Regions from separate parts of the Homo sapiens genome. Here all the other regions are reported to be linked to region 1. Evidence: microRNA targets listed by miRTarBase, many of them from high-throughput screens and not tested one by one. Region 1 holds a microRNA gene; each other region holds the end of a gene's coding sequence. Distances are between the middles of the regions.
Evidence for each region. The annotated mature microRNA hsa-miR-5688 reads UAACAAACACCUGUAAAACAGC and lies in region 1 at 2,534-2,555, shown strand. An mRNA with a match to its seed (bases 2 to 7 or 8) in the 3' UTR can be bound and repressed. Matches are read on the target gene's strand: a 7mer-m8 pairs with bases 2 to 8, a 7mer-A1 pairs with bases 2 to 7 and ends in A, and an 8mer does both.

Region 2: the mRNA of SREK1IP1 is a reported target of hsa-miR-5688. The part of its 3' UTR that is shown has no 7-base or 8-base seed match.
Region 3: the mRNA of MPRIP is a reported target of hsa-miR-5688. Seed matches in the 3' UTR shown: 7mer-m8 at 3,192-3,198 and 7mer-m8 at 2,174-2,180.
Region 4: the mRNA of ADAMTS9 is a reported target of hsa-miR-5688. The part of its 3' UTR that is shown has no 7-base or 8-base seed match.
Region 5: miRTarBase lists PRRT2 as a target of hsa-miR-5688. Seed matches in the 3' UTR shown: 7mer-m8 at 2,921-2,927.

What each region holds. Positions count from the first base shown.
Region 1 is chr3:85,383,228-85,387,227 of GRCh38, forward strand. MIR5688 (microRNA 5688) reads left to right here and starts at 2,483; the gene lies at 2,483-2,565. The region is part of intron 1 of CADM2 (cell adhesion molecule 2); the gene reads left to right.
Region 2 is chr5:64,721,024-64,725,174 of GRCh38, reverse strand. SREK1IP1 (SREK1 interacting protein 1) reads left to right here. Exons shown (of 5, transcript NM_173829.4): 5 at 602-4,151. The coding sequence ends at 791. Among named protein-coding and RNA genes, the nearest start is that of SHISAL2B, 33 kb to the right of the region's middle.
Region 3 is chr17:17,184,579-17,188,729 of GRCh38, reverse strand. MPRIP (myosin phosphatase Rho interacting protein) reads right to left here. Exons shown (of 24, transcript NM_001364716.4): 24 at 1-3,907. The coding sequence ends at 3,836. Among named protein-coding and RNA genes, the nearest start is that of PLD6, 20 kb to the left of the region's middle. RefSeq lists enhancers at 2,342-2,411, 2,442-2,641, 3,429-3,929.
Region 4 is chr3:64,518,267-64,522,417 of GRCh38, forward strand. It overlaps ADAMTS9 (ADAM metallopeptidase with thrombospondin type 1 motif 9), which reads right to left. Exons shown (of 40, transcript NM_182920.2): 39 at 3,900-3,994. The coding sequence ends at 3,905. Among named protein-coding and RNA genes, the nearest start is that of ADAMTS9-AS1, 41 kb to the right of the region's middle.
Region 5 is chr16:29,814,420-29,818,570 of GRCh38, reverse strand. PRRT2 (proline rich transmembrane protein 2) reads right to left here. Exons shown (of 4, transcript NM_145239.3): 3 at 4,106-4,151; 4 at 2,690-3,943. The coding sequence ends at 3,933. It overlaps PAGR1 (PAXIP1 associated glutamate rich protein 1), which reads right to left and starts at 2,419. Exons shown (of 3, transcript NM_024516.4): 1 at 1,564-2,419; 2 at 1,279-1,361. The coding sequence starts at 2,045. All of the region lies in intron 2 of MVP-DT (MVP divergent transcript), which reads left to right. RefSeq lists a silencer at 2,108-2,277 and enhancers at 2,468-2,717, 2,968-3,187, 3,080-3,709.

The sequences.
Region 1 (4,000 bases):
TCTGAATCTGCTGTGACTCTGGAGACTGCCTGATTCGTGAATTGTTTTTCTTGTTTGTTTTTTGTTTGTCTTGCTCAATTAAACTCTGTTAATTTGTCTGAAGTTTTCTTTTAACAGTGCTAAAATTAGACAATTTCAAAAATATGAAATTAGATAATTTCATTAGATAAATTGAATTAGATAAATCAGAAAATTAGAAATATATCAGTCATATTTTAAGCATTTCATACACAAGATTGTGGAAAAAAGTTAATATAATACTTTATACATAAAACCATATATATATATGTATATATATATATATATATATACATATATATATACATATAAACATTTACCACCATCCAGTTAAATAACTGACCACTAACCATTTCATTCAATTATCCTCATTTTTCTCTCCATTGGAATTCTCATTCCTCCCAAGGTTAACCAGTCGTTTGAACATTTTTATATCATTTATTTTCTTTTCATTATTTATACAATATATTTAAACTTTTTATGATTTTAAATTTTATATAAATGATTTCATATTGTATACATTCTTCAATACTCACTGTTCCTCCTTTGATATTTTGTTTTCAAAAAAGTTCCATTCCTTTGTTGATTTCCACCACTATATAGTATTTTGTTTAATGAATATAACTTACCACTATTTATCATTTCTTCTTTGATGAATAATTGAGTTATTTCTAAGTATTTTTCTTTTAAAAACTGTGTTTCTCTGAAAAGACTAATAAATATCTCATGATCATGTTGTACATGTGCAGTAATTTCCAGGAATGAAACTGCTGGATTAAATAATTTGCAAATATTCAAATTTGCCAGAAAAATTCAAATTGGTTTCAAGGAAATAATACCAGTTTACACTTCCACCAATGTTGCATATTCTACTTCTACATTCTTGCATATTCTTGTTATGGTATCTTTTAAATCTGTACCTGTCTGAAGAAAGAAAAACGACATCCCATTGTTATATATTTTTTGCTGATTATGTAGAGAGTATCCATATATCTTATAGAATGCACTGCTGAAATGCATGTGTGCATTTTTCACCATTGGGTGTTAAATTTTTCTTTTTTTTCTTCTATTTTTTGTTTTATTTTTTTAAGATGGAGTTTTGTTCTTGTTGCCCACGGTGGAGTGCAATGGTACCGTCTTGCTGCAACCTCCACCTGCGGGGTTCAAGCTATTCTCCCGCTTCAGCCTTCTAAGTAGCTGGGATTACAGACACCCGCCACCACGCCCGGCTAATTTTTTTGTATTCTTAGTAGAGACGAGGTTTCACCATGTTGGCCAGGCTCCTCTGAAAGTCCTGACTTCAGGTGATCCGCCCGCCTCAGCCTCCCAAACTGCTGTGTTTACAGGCGTCAGCCACCGCGCCCGCCCTCCTTTTCTTATTGGTCAGAAGCTTATTATTCTCTGTGTAATATTTTGTCAAAAAAAATGTGTGTGTGTGTGTGTGTGTGAGTGTATACTTGTGTGTGTATATATATATAACAATTATATAATTTTCCATGGGTATGTGGCTTTTCTTTTTATACTGCAACCTTTGATAAACCTTTATAAACAAAAGCTTTAAATTTCAAATTACTGGAATTTATTGACCTTTTATTTCAGGAAAAAAGAAAGATTATATACCCAATTGCATATAAATATATAAATGTTTTCCTATATCCTCCAATAAAGCTTTGTTTACTTTATTATTTATTTATTTATTTATTTTCTTGAGATGGAGTCTCACTGTGTGGCCCAGGCTGGAGTGTAGTGGTGTGATCTTGGCTCACTGCCACTGCCGCCTCCAAGGCTGAAGTGATTCTCCTGCCTCAATTTCCTGAGTAGCTGGGACTACAGGTGCGCTCCAGCACACCTGCTAATTTTTGTATATTTAGTATAGATGGGGTTTTGCCATGTTGTCCAGGCTGGTCTCAAGCTCCTGTCCTCAGGTGATCCACCTGCCTCAGCCTCCCAAAGTTCTGGGATTACAGGCGTTAGCCACCATGCCCAGGCGACACACTGTTTATTTTTTATTCATTTACATTTGCAACCCTTAACCAGTTAAGAAAAGAAACAATGATATGCTGAATTTTTCAAAACAGAAAAAAATATATGTTGTTTGGGAGGAGAGTGAGCAGGGAGGGAAAATGTATAGATTAACTGATAGTAGGGGAGAGAATCATAGACATGGCTCATTTGTTAATGTTTAGAAATGCATGTCCTATGGCCTTTTGCAAGTAAATAAAACTTAATCATGGATATGTTTTGGTAAATAACTTATTCATCCTTGTTTTATGAGGTTGGGCTATGATGTAGTAAAATCTATCAAATAAATAATAGCACAGGAAAGAATTGAGTTTTGGCAGGTTCATGTTGTTAAGAGCAATTTATTTGAGTGATCCCTATTTTTTTTCAGTGGAGAGAGAATATATTCTTTTTTAATTATGTTCAACATTGATTTTTTTTTTCAACCGAAAATACCCTTTGAGAAACACTTTGCCTTTTTACAGGAGTTTATTATGTTTTGGACATAGAAACATAACAAACACCTGTAAAACAGCAAAGTGTTTCTCTCTCTCTTTTTTTTTTTTTTTGGAAACTAGATGCCTTAAGATTGTATAAATTGAACATTCTCGCTTTGACATAAAATTGGATGTTATTCTGAAAAAGTTTCTACTGAGCATAGTACACATATTCATTTTGCATGTTACATTCATATCATGTTTTAAGAATAAATGAAGACATTCTAATTTGCATTAACAATTATATTTAAAACAAATAAATATAGAACAAAGTACCATATGAACAATCATGCAGAACAAAGTGAGAAGCTATGTTTGAAGGAATCTCGGCTTTCCCCTAACTACATACTACTTTATTTGCATCCTTGCCATCGTACTCACTAGGCTGCAGTAAGCAGAGACCACAGGCCTCTGGAGGTTTCAGGAGTGATTTCATACCTGTGTATAAATTCAAGGTAGCTAATTATTTTGAAAGTCATTTTTGGTGGTGGTTACTTTGAGAGATATGCACTTAGTTGATAAACCATTTATAAATAGGTAGAGATTGTAGGGAACGTGGTCCAACCTTAGCAAAGAGAATACAAGAAAGTATAAAGTATTAAGGAGAGCAGGTCCCATCCTGAAACTGGAGAATGGGAATTGGGTGGGGAGAACAACTAGATAGGGCAACTGAGCAAGCTAAGAAATTCACAATTAAGGCAGTAGGGTGAGACCTCTGAGTGACCATTCCTAAACTAGCAGGTTGTCTGAAGACCCAAATTCTTGGTTCATCCTTGTCCATGTGGGATGCTTGCTCCAGCTAGAATATAAAAACAGAATTTCAAACCTGGGCTGTGCTTCTCACTGACAGTGTGCGTGTTGTGGGCAGAGTACTTAAACCTTGTTGTGGGTTAGTTTTTGTATTTGTTGACTAGAGACTGAAATACTTACCAGGGTTGGAAGGATAATTAAAAGAGACAATGTAAGTGAAAACACCGTGAATACTACCTTTTGCATGTTAAGGATTACTACTAAAGTGTGAGAATGAGAAGGGAGGAATTGAGCACACACTTGAGGGAGAAAATCTTCATATTTGCCAGAAAACACAGAAAAGCCCAGGACAACATGTTTCCCCATTTGCATCCAGTATGAAAGGCAGGCATTTCTCATATGTGGAATATTCTCATAGGTGGAATAAAAATCATTCCCTTCAGTATGTTGTATCTTTATTTACTTGTCCCTAACTTTACCCCACCATATAAACAATAGCAGTTCCACAGGCAGGCTAAGCCTCCTGGCTCAGTCTGGGTTCCTAAAGCAATCTCTCTGAGTAAGGAATACTCTGGGAGTTAGGAGAGAATTTGTCTCATGGAGCCGCTGGGGGAAAAGGTACACAAATTAAAGTTTTGTTGAAAGTAGCAAAAAGGGATGGAAAGCTGGTCAGGCTACAGACCATGCCCATTACACTATATTTAGTGTAGGTGTTTGGAAAAGTAATTTTTCCC
Region 2 (4,151 bases), not on the chromosome of region 1:
TATAGCATAAAAGCATCCTTTTGTAACTAATGAAAATTATTTTGTAATGCAAGTATTCATCTGTATCACTCTCCGTCTAGAGGGATCAAGTACTTGAAAAATCAGAAGAATTACCAAAAGTGCTTTTATTTTGCTAACTTTCAGCTTTCATTCATTCATATGAACGTACAATTATAGCCCTTTAAAATAGAGAATTGCAACTTTTGAGACACTTTTAAGAAAATATGCGAAGTTATTGTATACACAAGTGAATATAATAAGGCTTGGTGAATGCCCCTTTGTTTGCCTTTTAGGATTTTGAATGATATGACTGCATGAAAAACCAAAAATCACAGAAAAATAATTTCATCCTTATTGACTTTAAAACTCATTACATTAGTATTGAGTGGAATAGATACTAGTTTTGTTGGTTTCTGTGACCAAGCAGCAAAAATTCTAAATTCATCGTTTTAAGGGAATGCAAATATATGAAGCATTTTTTAAGTTTATGTTTATACTCCCTACCTTACTCCAAGAAGAATTTAAGGCAGTTCAAATCCCACTTAAATTTATCTATCAGTCATAAATGCAATTCTCAGTCAGTATGTATTATTATCCATAGGTCTTACTCATCCAGTTCCACTGAAGAGGACACTTCAAAACAAAAGAAACAAAAATATCAGAAGAAAGAAAAGAAAAAAGAAAAAAAGAGTAAATCAAAAAAAGGGAAACATCACAAAAAGGAAAAAAAGAAGAGAAAAAAGGAAAAGCATTCTTCTACACCTAATAGTTCTGAATTCTCCAGAAAGTAACTGAGACTTTGGCTTAAGCCGTTAAATTTAAAAATTTGTTTTTAAAACGTGTTTGCCCTTCCTTGGAATTTGCTATATATTATGCTTTGCAATAAATCACAGCCTTTTCCATATAGACATTTTTCGTATTTGGGACCATTATCCCTCTGGCAATATATTTTTAATGTGCTGTAACTGTAAAGTATTAAATCAGTCTTGTTACTTGATAGCCATGCCCCAAGTATAGCTATTTGTGTATACTAAACACATCATTTTTGGTATTTGTGTCTCTGTGTGTTTGGCTAGTGTTACTACTTCATAAGTTCATTGTAAAATGGCTTTACTGCCATCAACATGGGTCATCTACCTAGCAGTTAATGAGTATTGCTGGATCAGGTGTCCACCTTCCAATGATGAAGCAAGGTAAGGGGTAATGTTTTGCTCTTGACACAGAGAAATTTAATAGCTTTATGTACTAAAATATAATATCTTTTAAAGATAGTGAAATTCTTCAGTTTTTTAAATCTCTAGGGATTTTTTTTCAATGTTGTAGAAGATGCAGCTGCTTAATGGTCTTGACTAGGACTTTTTAAATGAATGGTGTCTGCAGGTAGATGATCATGAAAATATCTCTAACAAAGTTTTACTCTTCTATGAAATGCAGAATTTCTAGTACCTGCCTCCTTTGTTTTTGTAATAATTAAAATACTTCTTGTATAAAGAGATTAGTTCAGCCTGTTAGTAAGTCTGCAGAGATGATGCTGAGTTGGTTGTGATTTTTAGAATAGACTCCTGGGTTGTTTTACAAATGTGCCATATTGGCATGTCTTACAGTGATACCTCAAACACAGAAATTTTTATTTAGGAAGATAGCTAAATCTTTATTAGAACTGATTTTTATTGTATTCAGTATAAATTTTATGAAGCTTGTTTCTATGAGTACTGTGGAAAATTTTATAAATGTGAGCATATATATTTATTTTGTCTGACATAATTTGTAGTTTTAAAGCAAGTTTCACACTGAACTTAACGTTTTCATAAATGACCAGTTTGGGATGTTTCTCTCTTTTACTTTAGTGGCAAACTCAAGAGTAAAAAGTGTCAAAAAAAGAATTGAGAATTTTATTCTGTACTTTTTAAAATTTAAGAGCCAGGGAGTTGCATCATGAAAGCCTTTGTATAATAATGGAAATTTTATATGGGTAAGCATTTTCAAACACATATTAGTAGATACGTTTTTTAAATTTCTATTTTCACATTGATCAGTGTTACTTTGCTTAATACTTAGGTAGCCCTTATGTCCACTAAAGTAAATGCTTATGTTGTAGAAGCATCGAACATCAACCAATGTCATGGCACAGCACCAAAGATTGCAAATACCTCACTATGGTGCGCTTAGAAATTTTCAAATTGATAACCTATAGATACGGCTGCAGGTGAATTCATGATAGTGAAATCAGCTAAGTATACTTAACCTCACAGGCTAGAAAGGTTTACTGATTCTTGTTTCACCTGGCACCCAATGTGGATACCCTCAGTAAGACTCAGGGAGCCTTATAACTCCTCTTAACATATGCTTACCCATGCTTAAATTCTAGGGAAGCTGTATCCACAGCCCTCTGCATTGCAGCCATGAGAGCTCTCACGCTTTCAACCCTTCCATAACCTAATTTAGTCATTTGGGCCTCTCAAAAGGAAATGCTTTTGTTTAAATAGGTCAGTCAGTTACTGGGAGAAAAAATACAGAGCCAGTAGGTTTTTAGGGATTTGTTTTGCCTTTGCTGCTAGTTTTTTGAAAATATTCTTCGATTATCAAGATTTTAAAAATCGGTTTTTAATATAAAGCTTTTTTAAAAACGAGGCTGGCACAAGTGCAGTGGTGTTTCTTTACTCCCACTGCTTGACTTGACTAGCCTTGAAAAAATAACAGTAAAATAAAATATTAAAAAATAATTAGAAAATGCTACAAAGGCAATGACCTTATTCCATTGAGTAAGATAGTTAAAAATGATAGTAATTGTAGTGAAATAGTTAATTACTTGTAAGTTTTATTACTGTTAATTGTAGAGATTATAAATTGGCTCATTAGGTTTCTGAATGGTGACACAATAATGACTGAGAAGAGCAAAAGTCAGTCCTCGTTAACTAATGTAGTATGCAAATTAAAATATTTTAATGATCAGTAATTTTCCCCCCAGAAATGATGTTGGCATTTCTAAGTAAATTTCCCATAATTTTAGCATAGTTTATGAAATTGAATAAAAATTTATTTTCACTGAAGTAATTTTCTTCTAATATGATATTATTATTGAGATTGGATGCAAATCTCATGAATATGTTTTAGAAGAAAATTAATGAAATTCCCTCCCAGGCAGTATGTACCAGAAGGAAAACTGAATTTAGCAGTAAAACAGTCCTGGTCATTCTAACTACCTGTATGATCTTGAACAAAGTCACTTAGTTTCCCTGGGCCTTGGTGTCTTTCGTCTATAAAATATTGTACCAGATTATCTCTGAAATCACTTCAAGGTTTAATATATATAATTATCAATATTTTAAAATTCAAGCAATATTCACTTTAGAAATTATTATAACATTCTATAATAGTAAAGGTTGAATTTATTAATATAATAAACACGTTCAACTTCTTCAAGCAGATAATTGATATTTGGTTCATATTCTTACAACCTAATGCATGTCATTTTCACCAAATGCAGGCAGAATTTATATTTAGGTTTGCATCTGGAACTAGATTATCTGGCACTTTATGGCCATTATTTTTGGGTTGATGGACCTTCTCACCACACAATTTCCCCCTTTTTTTTTTTTGCATATCATATGTTGGTTGATATTTCTCAGAGGTATCCCTATTTCTTCATACTTAATATACATCTCCATTTACATCTTTGACTCTCTGAGGTCAAAACAACAATAAATGAGAAGTAAAACAACTATATGTGTTTGTATTTACAACTGTATCTAAAATTATATAACCCTAGTTTACCTTCAGAGTAAACTAGGCTGAAGAGTTGTTAATAATGTTGATAAAAATGCCATTGAATCCTTTCTTCAACAAATATTTATTGAGTACCTAACGTGGCAAACGCTGTGCTAAGTACTGGGGATACAGAGATAAGTAAGACACATTTGCCTCCCTGAAGGACTTCACAGTGTAGTTGGTAGGAGAAACACCAGAGCATACACCGTTATATAATTAGTGCAGTAATTGACATGAACATGAGTTTATAGAAACTCGGGGTTACCTAAAGTAGTCTGGATAAATTAGAAGAGGCTACCTAGAGAAAGTAGTGACTGAATTGCAATTTGATTAAGGATAAGAATGAGGGTTATGGCAGTTCCTGACAGAGTGGGTACTGTGAA
Region 3 (4,151 bases), not on the chromosome of region 1:
TGATGATCAGGATTGTGTTCAGTTTTCAGCATGTTTCCATGTACCCAAAAGTTAAGAGTCCCATCTACCTCTATAGTAAAACAAAATGATAGTAAATACATTCCATAAAAATGTTTTTCAAGCCATCAGTTTTGTTTCCGGCCTTATCTGTCAGTATTCCTTTCAGGCACATTCTGAGATTCACAACTGTGTTCTTTAAACAGCCAAAATTCCCTCTTCTCCAGCATGAGCTGGAGGGTCAAGGGGTGATGGGAGCTGGTGGCTGCTGCAGAAACAGGTTCTTGCTGGGCCTTCCAACTCACTAAGCAGGCTGTGGGGCCTTGCTCTCCATGCTCTTCTGCCTTCATACTTGCTGAATCCGAAGGCAAGATCCTCTCCGATGTTACCTCTTGTTCAATAAACCTGCAAATTCGCGATACTGCCACCTCTAGTCGCCCTGGGATGTCCACTGCATCACCCACTTAGCACAGGCCCATTATGACTCCCTGAAGCACAGGCTTCCAGCTCAGAGGGCAGCGCACTGTCTCCACCCCTGCCCAATGATCCACTCAGACCCGGGAGGCTGTGGACAGCGCGTCCTCTGAAATGCTGGTCTCCACACCTGCCTGGGGCTGGGGCACCATGGGTGGATAAAGAAACTGACCAGCAGAAAGTGACTATTCTGCACGTGCAGGCGTGCACACAAGGTAATTACCCACAAGCCTGCAGAAACTCACACGAGCACAACTGCCTCGCTTTCCCATTCATATGTGTGGCACAGCTTACTGGCTGGTGCTAGCATACTACACATAAATACATTTATAGGAAAATAATTAAAATGCTGAAGTCTATCTATTTGAACTTCTTCCTCATCGGTAAAGCTGGGAAAGCTCACTACTGTGTAGCTGGTGCCAAGGAGCAGCCTGAGACCCCGCCTGCAGCTGTCCCTAAGACTTTCCTCTCCCCATACAGAAACCAGTTCTACTTCTTCACTGTTCTTCTTTCTTCCCTCTGGAATTCAGGGGTTAAATCCCTTCCAGGGTATTTGGATGCCTGCAGGAAGGAAACTGGAGAGAGGGCCCAGCCCTGTGCAGCACAAGGCTCCCTGCTCAGTGTGGCACCAGTTGGGCAGCCGTCAACATCTGTGCCAGTGTTGCCACCTGGGCAAGTCTCTGTTCCTGGGGCATGTCCAGGTGCAACATGAAGAACATCGTCATCCTTTCTCGCCTGGTTCACTCCATCGCAGGATGGAGCCCACCAGCAGGGAACCCAGACTTCCTTGACCCAGATGGTGGCTGTCCCTGTATGAGGGCTCTTCAGAAACGCCAGGACAGGCCCAGGGCATTTTCAGGAGCTCTTAGCAAAGCAGCCTCAGTCCGTTTCCTGGCAATACCCTACACTAAACCAGCCTCTGGGGAGAGACCTGTGGCAGGGAGGAATGCAGACGCCCTGCTGGCCTGTCTCTGACCCCTCACATGCTGCACTCATATTAATTTTCCAGGATTCCTGAAGTCCAGCCTCAAGGGATATGTGACAGAAAAAAGGGAATCAAATGCTCTTTTGTCCTATGGGCAAACTTGCTTTAATTTAAAGCACTGTGAGGGCTGAAGGCAGATGATCCTGTCTCCAAGCATGGACTCTGGCCAGAACCCCCTGGAGGGCAGAAGGCAGGGAGCTGTCTGCAGAAGGGCCAGTGGGGTCCACCCCCAGGGGCAGCAGGGATGGTCACGAAGGAAACCATGCCAGGAAGGGCAGGTGGTGGACCTCAGAGAACGGCACAAAATCGTAGCACCCAGACACGAGGCAAAAACTCCTATCTGGTCAGATCCTGATGCACTCCAGGTCCCTGTCTGTCCTGGAGCATTCGTGTGACCCAGCAGTGTCCTGGAGACAACAATGAGGCTGTGGGGGACAGCGGGGTCCCGAATGTTCCTTCTGTATATTCCCATTGACACAGAAAGGTCATAGTGCATTTCTCAAAGCACTGCCAATCTAAATGGTCAGGGGGGGTCTGATAAGTATATCTATATCTGATATGGGGCCTTGCTTTGTCACCCAGGCTGGAGTGCAGTGACACGATCATGACTGATTGCAGCCTCGACCTCCCGGGCTCAAGCAATCCTACTACCTCAGCCTCCTGAGTAGCTGGGACTACAGCTACGCAACTGTGCCACCTCAGAGAAGTAGATTTTTAAACAAACCCAATTTTCTCTTGCTGTTAACAACACTGAAGACTAGTAGCAGAGGAGTGAAAGTGTGGGTTAAGAGCCTTAAAAACTTGTGGAAAGGGCTCGATGCCAGTGGAGAGCACTTAGTTATTTCAGTGAGAAGAGAGCACCTAAACCTGGGTCTGAAAACACATGAAAACTCCAGGCCTTGCTCCCGGCCCTTCTGCACATTGGGGGCGGGGCCAGAGCTCCACTGATGGCCTTGCTCATGACTTCATCTAGAAACTGAGCAACAGGATTTCTAGATTTCAACGCCCAAAGCATCCACCCACCCACAGAGACCATCACACCAACACAAGCATGAATACAAAGTGAAAGCATGTTCTTGGCATGAAAACCATCTACTCACACCCCACCTTGCTCCTAAAGTAGCAGAACCTGTTCCACCAGCCAGGGGTTTATACTCCCTATCTTAATGGGATTAATGGTTTTCATGGGGCCATAATAGACTCCAATTTAAGAGATTTTCAAGAATTGCCATAGAATGTTTTGTGGTGGTTAAAAAGGTCTTCCTCAAACTGTTAGAAAAAGCAAAATTGTTAGTATAGGTTTACTTTAACCAGGCTCTTTTAAAGATAAATGCTGCAAGATAGGTTTTCAGAGCTCAGATTAATTAAATGAGAGTTAAGATCGGAGTCTCAATAAACACTAATGTGCTGTTCTCATCAGATTCTGACATCCTCTGTACTTTCTTCTTGACTTAACAGGGGTCTCCTCTCAACCTTTTCCAAAGCAATGTGACGGTTTCTTTTCCAAAAGGTAAAAAAAAAACCCAAACCCCCAAACCTTCCCCCATTTTGAATGATTCCTGGGGGGAATTCATTTGTTTTTTGCAATCAGAGTCTGAAACCTGGGCTGCAGGTCAACAATCTCGAGCAGTTATGAAAAGACCAGGGTTACTGGAGACCAAGAAAGGAACGAGCGGAGGAAGGAAGGAAGGAAGGAAGGAGAGGGGCCGGGGATTTTGTGCAAGATTTAATAAAAAACAAACAAAAATAGGAATGGTTGCTTTCAACATTTTCCAGGTTGTGAAAGGTTTGCCACGACTCTCAGGGGTGTGGTTCTAAGCTGCATCAGTGGAACAAATACAAAATGCTGTCCTCCTCCTGGGCTGGAAGGCAGTGCACTTTCTCCTCTTAACAGCCAGACTAGCGGGTGAGGAGTCAGTGCTGTGACCCAGGCCAAGCTGGAGTGTCCGCATAGCTTTTTCTCTGACCAGTGGGGATTCCATCTACCTTGAGGCGTGCTGGCTGGGCCCCGTTTCCACACCAGCACATGGTGAGACAGGGTAGCTTATCAACAGGCTGCTGGGCCTTAATACTGACAGTGAGTGTGGCGGGTCACAGCCAGGAAAGGACTAACACAGATGCCCTCCCAGCCCCCACTGCTGGCCTAATTTTAGAATACCACGGAAAAAAGCTTTGATGAAGACAACAGGAAGTCAACACAGCAGAGAGTGGTGTGGACAACCCAGAAGCCAGCCTCACGCATTCCATGCCCACAGTTAACGATGACAACAACAGCAATAATAATAATAATAATAAAACAAAGGTACAGGTGAAAAGCAGCGCTTGGGGTGTGCTGCTGCAAGCTGGGGAAGGCGCGTGCTCAACTTGGATGGGACACACCTAGTCTTTCTTCAAGTCCCTGGATTCAAAGAGCTTCAACCGTTCTTGCACCGTCAGGCCTTCCTTCAGACTCTGGGTAGAGACAGAGCAGGAGGAGAAAATAAACACACCGTTAGACCCCCTGCACTGGACCGGACCGGACCAGACCGGACCGCTGGTGGAGCCGGCATCAGTCAGAGAGCCGGGTGCAGGTGCGGTTAGTGGGCATGCCAGGAGGAGAGTCCCCGGGAAATGCTGTTATTGGAGGATGTTTTCCCCTTCACAAAATTACTTGGATGAAAAAGGAAAAAAAAATCAGAGAGACAAGACCATGTGT
Region 4 (4,151 bases), 21 Mb from region 1:
AATTTCCTTCATTTCCTTAGCTCCTTGTAACAGAAATAATCCTAAATGTCAAATAGGCACTCTTGTATCAGGATCTTCAAGAGCCTTACACGGTAATGGGCTACTGGAAGCTTGAGGGAAGATGCAGGTGGGTCACATGAATTGGTTGAGCTCATTCCTTGCAGCTGAAGACATGGGGATGATAAAAAGACTGACCAGTTCCGTCTTTTACTCAGCAGAAGAATCACCTTCTGGCATAATGTACTCAGGTCAGGGATTGCCGAACTTTAACATGCATGACTCCTGTGGACTTTGTTAAAATGCAGATTCTGATTTCACAGGTATAGGGTGAGGCCTGACATTGTGCATTTCTAACAAGTTCCTAGGTAAAGCTGATCGAGCTGATTCTTGGACCACACCATGAGTAACAGGGGTGTGGCACAGTGGAGTGATTAAGAGCACTGGCTTTAGTGTAGGACACTCTGAGTTCTGCCGAGGGAATTTATCATTACCTTTTCATTTTTTTTTTTTTTTTTTTTTTTTTTGAGACAGAGGCTTACTCTCTCACCCAGGCTGGAGTGCAGTGGCGGGGCGTGGTCTTGGCTGACTGCAACCTCTGTCTCCCAGGTTAAAGCGATTCTCCTGCCTCAGGCTCCCAAGTAGCTAGGACTACAGGCATGTGCCAACACACCCAGCTAAATTTTGAATTTATAGTAGAGATGGGGTTTCACCATGTTGGCCAGACTGGTCTCAAACTCCTGACCTCAAGTGATCTGCCTGCCACAGCTTCCCAAAATGCTGGAATTACAGGCATGAGCCACCGTGCCCAGCCTCATCATGATCTTAAGCAAGTTACTTAATTGTTGTGGGCCTCAGCTTCCTCATATGTAAAATAGCAGCTCCTCCACACAGTTTTGTTGTGAGGATTCAATGAAATATTGCTCAACAAATGCCACTGTAGTTTTACTATTACATTCTTGGGATGTATTTCTCAAAGGATGAGCTGTGATTCACTTGCATTAGAATTCTCTGTATTAAAGTTACAGATCCCTGAATCCACCAGAGACCTAATGAAGCAGGACCCCTAGAGATGCAGCCCAATAAACAGCCTTTTAAATAAGCTCTGCAAAGAGCTGGTACCAATCCTATTGAAACAATTTTTTCAAAATCGAAGAAGAGATATTCCTTCCTAACTCATTCTATGAAACCTCTATCATCCTGATACCAATACCTGGCAAAAACACAAGAAAAAAAGAAAACTACAGACTAATATCCCTGATGAACATTGACATGAAAATCCTCAACAAAATACTAGCAAACTGAATCCAGCAACATACCAAAAAGATAATCTACCATGATCGAGTGGACTTTATTCTTGGCAGGCAAGGATCATTCAACATATGCAAGTCAATAAATGTGATTCACCACACAAACAATTAAAAACAAAAACAATATGACCATATCAATAGATGCAGAAAAAGCATTAGATAAAATCCAACATCCCTTCATGATAAAAACCTACAAGGCATAAGACATCAAAAGAACATACCTCAAAATAAAAGCCATCTCTAACAAACCCACAGCCAATATCATACTTAACAGGCAAAAGTTGGAAGCATTCCTCCTAAGAATGGGAACAAGACAAGAATGTGTACTCTCACCACTCCTATTCAACATAGTATTGGAAATCTTAGCCAGAGCAATCAGGCAAGAGAAAGAAAGAAAAGACATCAAAAGAGGAAAAGAGGAAGTCAAATTATCTTCCTTCACTGACAATATGATTCTATACAAAGAAAACCCTAAATATTCCACCAAAAGATTCCTAGACCTGAAAAATGACTTCAGTAAATTTTCAGGGTGCAAAATAAATGTACAAAAATCAGAAGCATTTCTATACACAAATAACATTCAAGCTGAGAACCAAATCAAGAATGCAATCCAATTTACAGTCACCACAAAAAGAATAAAATACCTAGGAATACATCTAATCAAGCAGGTAAAAGAGCTCTACAAGGAGAATTATAAACATTGCTTAAGGAAATCATAGATGACACAAATAGAAAAACGTTCCATGCTCATCTATTGGAAGAATCAATAGCATTAAAATGTCCATACTGCCCAAAGAAATACACAGATTCAACAAAATTCCCATCAAATTACCAATGTTATTCTTTACAGTGTTAGAAGAAGAACTATTCTAAAATTGATATGGAACCAAAGCAGAGCCTAAAAGCGAAAGCAATCCTAAGCAAAAAGAACGAAGCCAGAGGTATCATATTACCGGACTTCAAACTCTACTCCAAGGCAGCAAACTAAAGGTAACCAAAACAGCATGGTACTGGTACTAAAATAGACACAAAAATTAATGGAACAGAATAAGGAACCCAGAAATAAAGCTATACATCTATAACCAACTGGACTTCAACACAATCAACAAAAATAAACAATGGGGAAAGCACACCCTATAATAAATGGTGCTGGAAAAACTGGCTAACCATATACAGAAGAATGAAATTGAACTCTTACCTCTTACCATATACAAAAAATAACTCAGGATACATTAAAGACTTAAATGTAAGACTTCAAAACATAAAAATTCTAGAAGAAAACCCAGGAAATACTCTTCTGAACATTGGCCTAGGCAAACAAATTATGACTAAGTCCTCAAAAGCAAATGCAACAAAATGAAAATTGATAATGGAGACCTAACTAAATTAAAGAGCTTCTGCACATCAAAAGAAACTATCAACAGAATAAATGGACAATCTACAGAATAGGAGAAAACATTTTTAACCTATACATTTGATAAAGGAATAATATCCAGAATCTATAAGGAACTTAAGCAAATCAACAAGAAAAAAACAAATAACCCTATTAAAAAGTGGGCAAAGGACATGGACAGACACTTCTCAAAAGAAGACACACAAGCAGCCAACAAATATAAGAAAAAATGCTGAACATCACTTATCATCACAGAAATGCAAGTCAAAACCACACTGAGATAACATCTCATGCCAATCAGAATGGCGATTCTTAAAAAGTAAAAAGATAACAGATATTGGTGAGACTGCAGAGAAAAATGGAATACACTGTTGGTGGGACTGTAAATTAGTTCATCCTTTGTGAAAAGCAGTTTGGAGAGTTCTTAAAGAACTAAAAATATAACTACCATTTGACCCAGCAATCCATTACTGGGTATATATCAAAAAGAAAATAAATCATTCAACCAAAAAGACACCTGCACTCACATGTTTATTGCAGCACTATTCACAATAGCAAACGTGGAATCAACCTAGGTACCGATTAATGGTGGACTGGATTTTAAAAATGTGGTCTGTATACATGATGAAATACTATGCAGCCATAAAAAATAATGAAATCATGTCCTTTGCAGCAATATGGATGCAGCTGGAGGCAATTTTCCTAAGTGAATTAACACAGAAACAAAAAATCAAATACCATATGCTCTTGCTTATAAGTGGGAGTGGAATACTGGGTACACATGGACATAAAGACTGAAATAATGGACACTGGTAACTCCAAAAGGGAGGAGGAAGGGAAGGGAAAACTATTTATTGGATACTACTTTCACTATTTGGGTGATGGGTTCAAACGAAGCCTACATCTCAACACACTATAACAGTGTAACAAACTTGCACATGTACCTCCTGAATCTAAAATCTAAAAGCAAATAAATAAATAGGCCAGCTCTGTAGAGGGGAAGCCATGTCTAATGGCAGAGAACTGATGGCTTCAGTCACGTGAGGACAGAGGAGCAGGAGATAAAAAGGTAGAACTGTATTGGGTCAGCTTCAAGATGCTTAACTGTAACCCTGCCTGATCCTCCCACATTTGCTCATATAGGCTACAGAAAAAAATAAAAGACAAATACACAGACAGACAGACATAGGACTACTTACCTTAGCTATAAAACTCGCACCTCCAGGCCAGTACCAGAGGATGGAGTGCATTTTCCACAGTAACCACCGCATTTCCCTACGACTCGGGTACCATCCTGCAAGGAGATGCATCATGTTAGCCTGCCTGCTTGGTTAATGCTTTCAGGGCCTGCACTGGCTTTTTGGGAAAACGTTCTTATACACACAGTAAACAGGCCTTCTGAACTGATGTGAAGCCCAACATACTCACCATGGTCTAAAGCAGGGGCTGGC
Region 5 (4,151 bases), not on the chromosome of region 1:
AAGTGATATGATTTATGTTTTAAAAGGTTCATCTGAATTGCAGAAGCTGGAAGCAGAGAGCCCAGTTAGGAGCTACTACAACTATCCAGGCAAGAAAGACAGTGGCTTGGATGGGGATGTGGTATTGAAAGTGGAGACTAGCAGAGGTACTTGGAAATGTACATCTTATAGCTACCAAGACTTGCTGCTGGTGTGAATGTTCAGGTAAAAGAGAGAGAAATCAAGAATGGCTCTAGGCTGGGTGCAGTGACTCATGCCTGTAATCTCAGCACTTTGAGAACCGAGGCGGATGGATCACTTGAGCTCAAGAGTTCGAGACCAACCAGTCTGGGCAACACAGCAAGACTCTGTCTCTCCACCCCTCAAAAAAAAGAAAAAAGGAAAGGCATGACTCTGAGGGTAAATTCTAGGAAGGCATGTGGGGTGGGAAATGGGGCCAGCGGTGTGATTAAAGAATGTACATGGTAGTAGAGGGATGCAGATCTAGATAATATTGAAAGGCCAGGACTTGGACTTCTGGGAATGGGAAACATGATAGAATTATCTGTAATTTTCCAGAATCAATGACTAGTTGTTTTTTTAAAAAAAGAATTATCTGTAATTGTGTTTTTTGAGACGGAGTCTCACTCTCTCGCCCAGGCTGGAGTGCAGTGGTGTGATCTCAGGTCACTGCAACCTCCACCTCCCAGGCTCAAGCGATTCTCCTGCCTCAGCCTCCTGAGTAGCTGGGACTACAGGTGCCCGCCACTATGCCCGGCTAATTTTTTGTATTATAATTGTCTCTTAAAGGAAGACAAGGGGCCAGGCGCATTGGCTCATGCCTGCAATCCTAGCACTTTGGGAGGCTGAGGTGGGCGGATCACAAGGTCAGGAATTCAAGACCAGCCTGGCCAACATGGTGAAAGCCTGTCTCTACTAAAAATACAAAAATTGGCCCAGAGTGGTGGCATGCGTCTGTAATCCCAGCTACTTGGGAGGCTGAGGCAGGAGAATTGCTTGAACCCAGGAGGCGGAGGTTGCAGTGAGTTGAGATCGTGCCATTGCACTCCAGCCTGGGGGACAAGGGCAAGACTCCATCTCAAAAAAAAAAAAAAAAAAAAAAGGAAGACAAGGTAGTAATCTAAGTCATAAAGATGGTGCTACTGGGTGAATACTCTCTCCTGCAGCTGTAAGTTGTGTGGGAGCTGAGGCAGCAAGCAAAGGCCTCTAGGGGAGCCGATCTTGGGTAACTGAGCCGAGGCCCTTCACCTCCCCCAACTGTTTCCTCTTCGTTTGTACCTGGGGTGCGTCTCCGGTCAATCAGGGAGTCCTTTGGTGTCACTGGCTCATCATCAAAATCAAATTCCGTGGGCATGTGTGGTCTGGGACAGGTGAACATAGTTAAGGGTGAGGGCGGTCCTCCCTCCCACCCACACGTGTGCTTCTCCCCTGCCCGTTCCTCCTCCCCCGCTGGCTTCCCTCCCTCCACTTTCAAAGGTTCCAGCGTCCCACATTTTCCCCTCCCTATTTCCTCCCGCCATCAGGGGAGCAGCCCCGGGACAAGGTGTAAGGGTGTGCCTTTACTTTTCCTCTTCCTCTTCTTTGGCCTCCGGCTCCTCATCGGATCTCTCCTCTTCGCTCTGGGCCTCCGGCGTGGGAGGCCGGCGGGGCAGGATCTCGGCTTGCAGCTCCAGAGTACCGTGGGCAGCCAGCAGTTCATAGAGCCGCTGGATTTCGGAGGGCGGGGGCATCCAGGGCTGCCCATCCGCAGGCAGCTCCACCTCCTCGTCGCTGCAGGGCACGCACCAGTCCTCGGAGTCCTCCTCGGCAGGCTCTTCTCCCCCAGCGCTGGGGACTTCTCCCTGCGCCTCCTCGCCCCCGGACCCCTCACGCTCGGTCTCCTCTCGGCCTCCTTCCCCCTCGTCCTCGGCCTTACCGGCCGAGGCAGAGGGGCCTCCGGTATCCTCCACGGCCAGAGCCTGGAGGCCGGAGGTCACTTCCCCTTCTTCAGACAGAGGCGCCGCCGTACTGGCCGCAGTGTCTCCATGGCCCCGAGCAAGGGACATAGGCCACTAGGGCAGGGACCCTGCGACGACAGATACTGGAGTCCGAAGCCAGGGTCCCCCAGGGATCGGGCTCCCCTGGGGGTTCGGGACCGTTTCCAGCCAATCACGCTCCCGCAGGGGACTCCGCGGCCAGACCGCCCGTCCCCGGGAGGGGGCGCTCAGTCCCCACCAAGGACCCCGCCCCGGAGATCGAGGTTCGGTACTCCGAGGCTCCCGGGCCCCGCAGAAACCACTTTCCGAAAGAGGGAAAGGGGGAGGAGAGGGACGGGCCACTCTTCTCGCTTCCACGACGCCCCTCTCCACACCCGGACACGGCGCCTTCTCCCCAGACCTTTCAGTTGTGGGCCACGTCAAGTCAGATGCCGTACGCACCTGGAGCTAAGACCCGCCTCCCAGGCTGCGCAGGGTCACGCTACGCAGGCGCACAGAAATGGCGCGGGAGGCTCCGCTCTAGGCAAGGCTACTTGGAAGAGGAAAGCGAGGGAAGGCTTGCACATGCGCGAGTAAGCGCACAGGCTTCAGCCCACAGTAAAGATGGCCACCGGGAAGTCGCATGCGTATACCACCCAGTAAGGTTCTGCCAGAAAGGCAGCACCGCCGGGCCGGCGGGACGAACGCAGGAACCAACCGAGATTGGAGGCGAGTCTCATGCAGTCTCCGTTTATTGGTGTTTCAGACTCATGCAGCATCCGGCATACAAAAAGGGAGAAATCAGTTTGATAATAGCCTTTTTTTTTTTTTTTTAAGAATTTTAGTTTTTTTCTTCCCCCAGACTTTTTTTTTTTTTTTTTTTTTTTTTTTAAGGAAAAAAACCCCCGCCAAATCCGAACCGCGTTGTAGCTCGGTCCCCGCCTCCTCAGCGGGCTGTCGCGTGCAACAAACCTCCCCCATCATCTTAGAAAATAATTATAGAGCGCGGCGCCCCGCCCTCGCTCCTGCCAGTGGGCGCTTTGGTCCTATTTTTTGGATTATTTCATTACGAAGCACGTGAATGAATCTAGCCCCCACACCTTCAAGAAAGAAACTCGCGGACTGGGGTTGAAAAGCCCAGGTGGGCGGGTCAACTCCAGCTGACCTGGAAGGGTCAGCGCCGCGTCCCTCCCTTCTCCCCTGCGTGCGTTCGGAACCAGTACTCGCCACCCTCACCCGAGTCCCCATACGAGGCCCGGCTTGCCAACTCTGCGACCTGCCAGGCACCCTTGGGTGTCCGACCCTGGGTGGTCCCAGCAGAGAACAGTCCGAGCCTGGGGTTGGGGAGCCCTCTCCCAACACTGCTCCCTGCCCCCAAGCCTCGTCTAAGTGCTGTCAATTTTGCAGAGTAAACGGTGACGGGAGGTTGGAGAAGAGGATGCTTAAGGGAGATGAGGAGGCAGGAAGAGGAAGGGGGCGGGACGTGGAGAGGAAAGGGGAGATGATAAAGAAGGGAAGGAAGAGAGGACTGAGGGTTGAGAGATGCCAAGACAATGAAAGTTGGGAGGAGGCGGCCAGGGTGGAGGTCCAGAGAATTTGGGGGGCTGGAAGAAGTGCAGGGAGGCCAGGAGAGATGCAGGGAGGCTGAGAGCGCAGAGTTGGGGAGGTGTTCAGGGAGGTTTCCAGAGTGCAGGGAGGTTTCCAGAAGTGCAGGGATAGGGGGCCAAGAGGCCGGAGGGGATGCAGGCATTAGTGCAGGGAGGTTGGAACCAGTGCAGGGATGAGGCAGGCCTACAGTTGGCAGAGGAGCCTGGCAAGATGCAGGAGCAGGACAGAAGCTGTAAACAAGGCCGCTCAGGCTCCCTTGGTCCTTAGGGGTGGGGGCCAGGGCCATCAGTTGGGCTCCCCCCAGGGGAGGGATGGGCCCAAGGCAGCTCCCAACAGGAAGAAAAGTCTTGGGATGCGGGGCAGAGCCCCTCACTTATACACTGTGGGAGAGGAGAGGGAAGGACAGACGGGGGGAGGGGGAGACAAGGAGAGACAAAGGAGAGGTAAGGAGGACAGACAGGAGAGAGCAGGGGCAGGGGTTAGTAAAGCTGCCCTTGCCAACCCTTCCATTCCTCCCCTGCCTGTCCCAAGCCCCCACTCACCGCCTAAGTTGATGACGCAGGAGGCGATGATGATGAGGACTCCCCC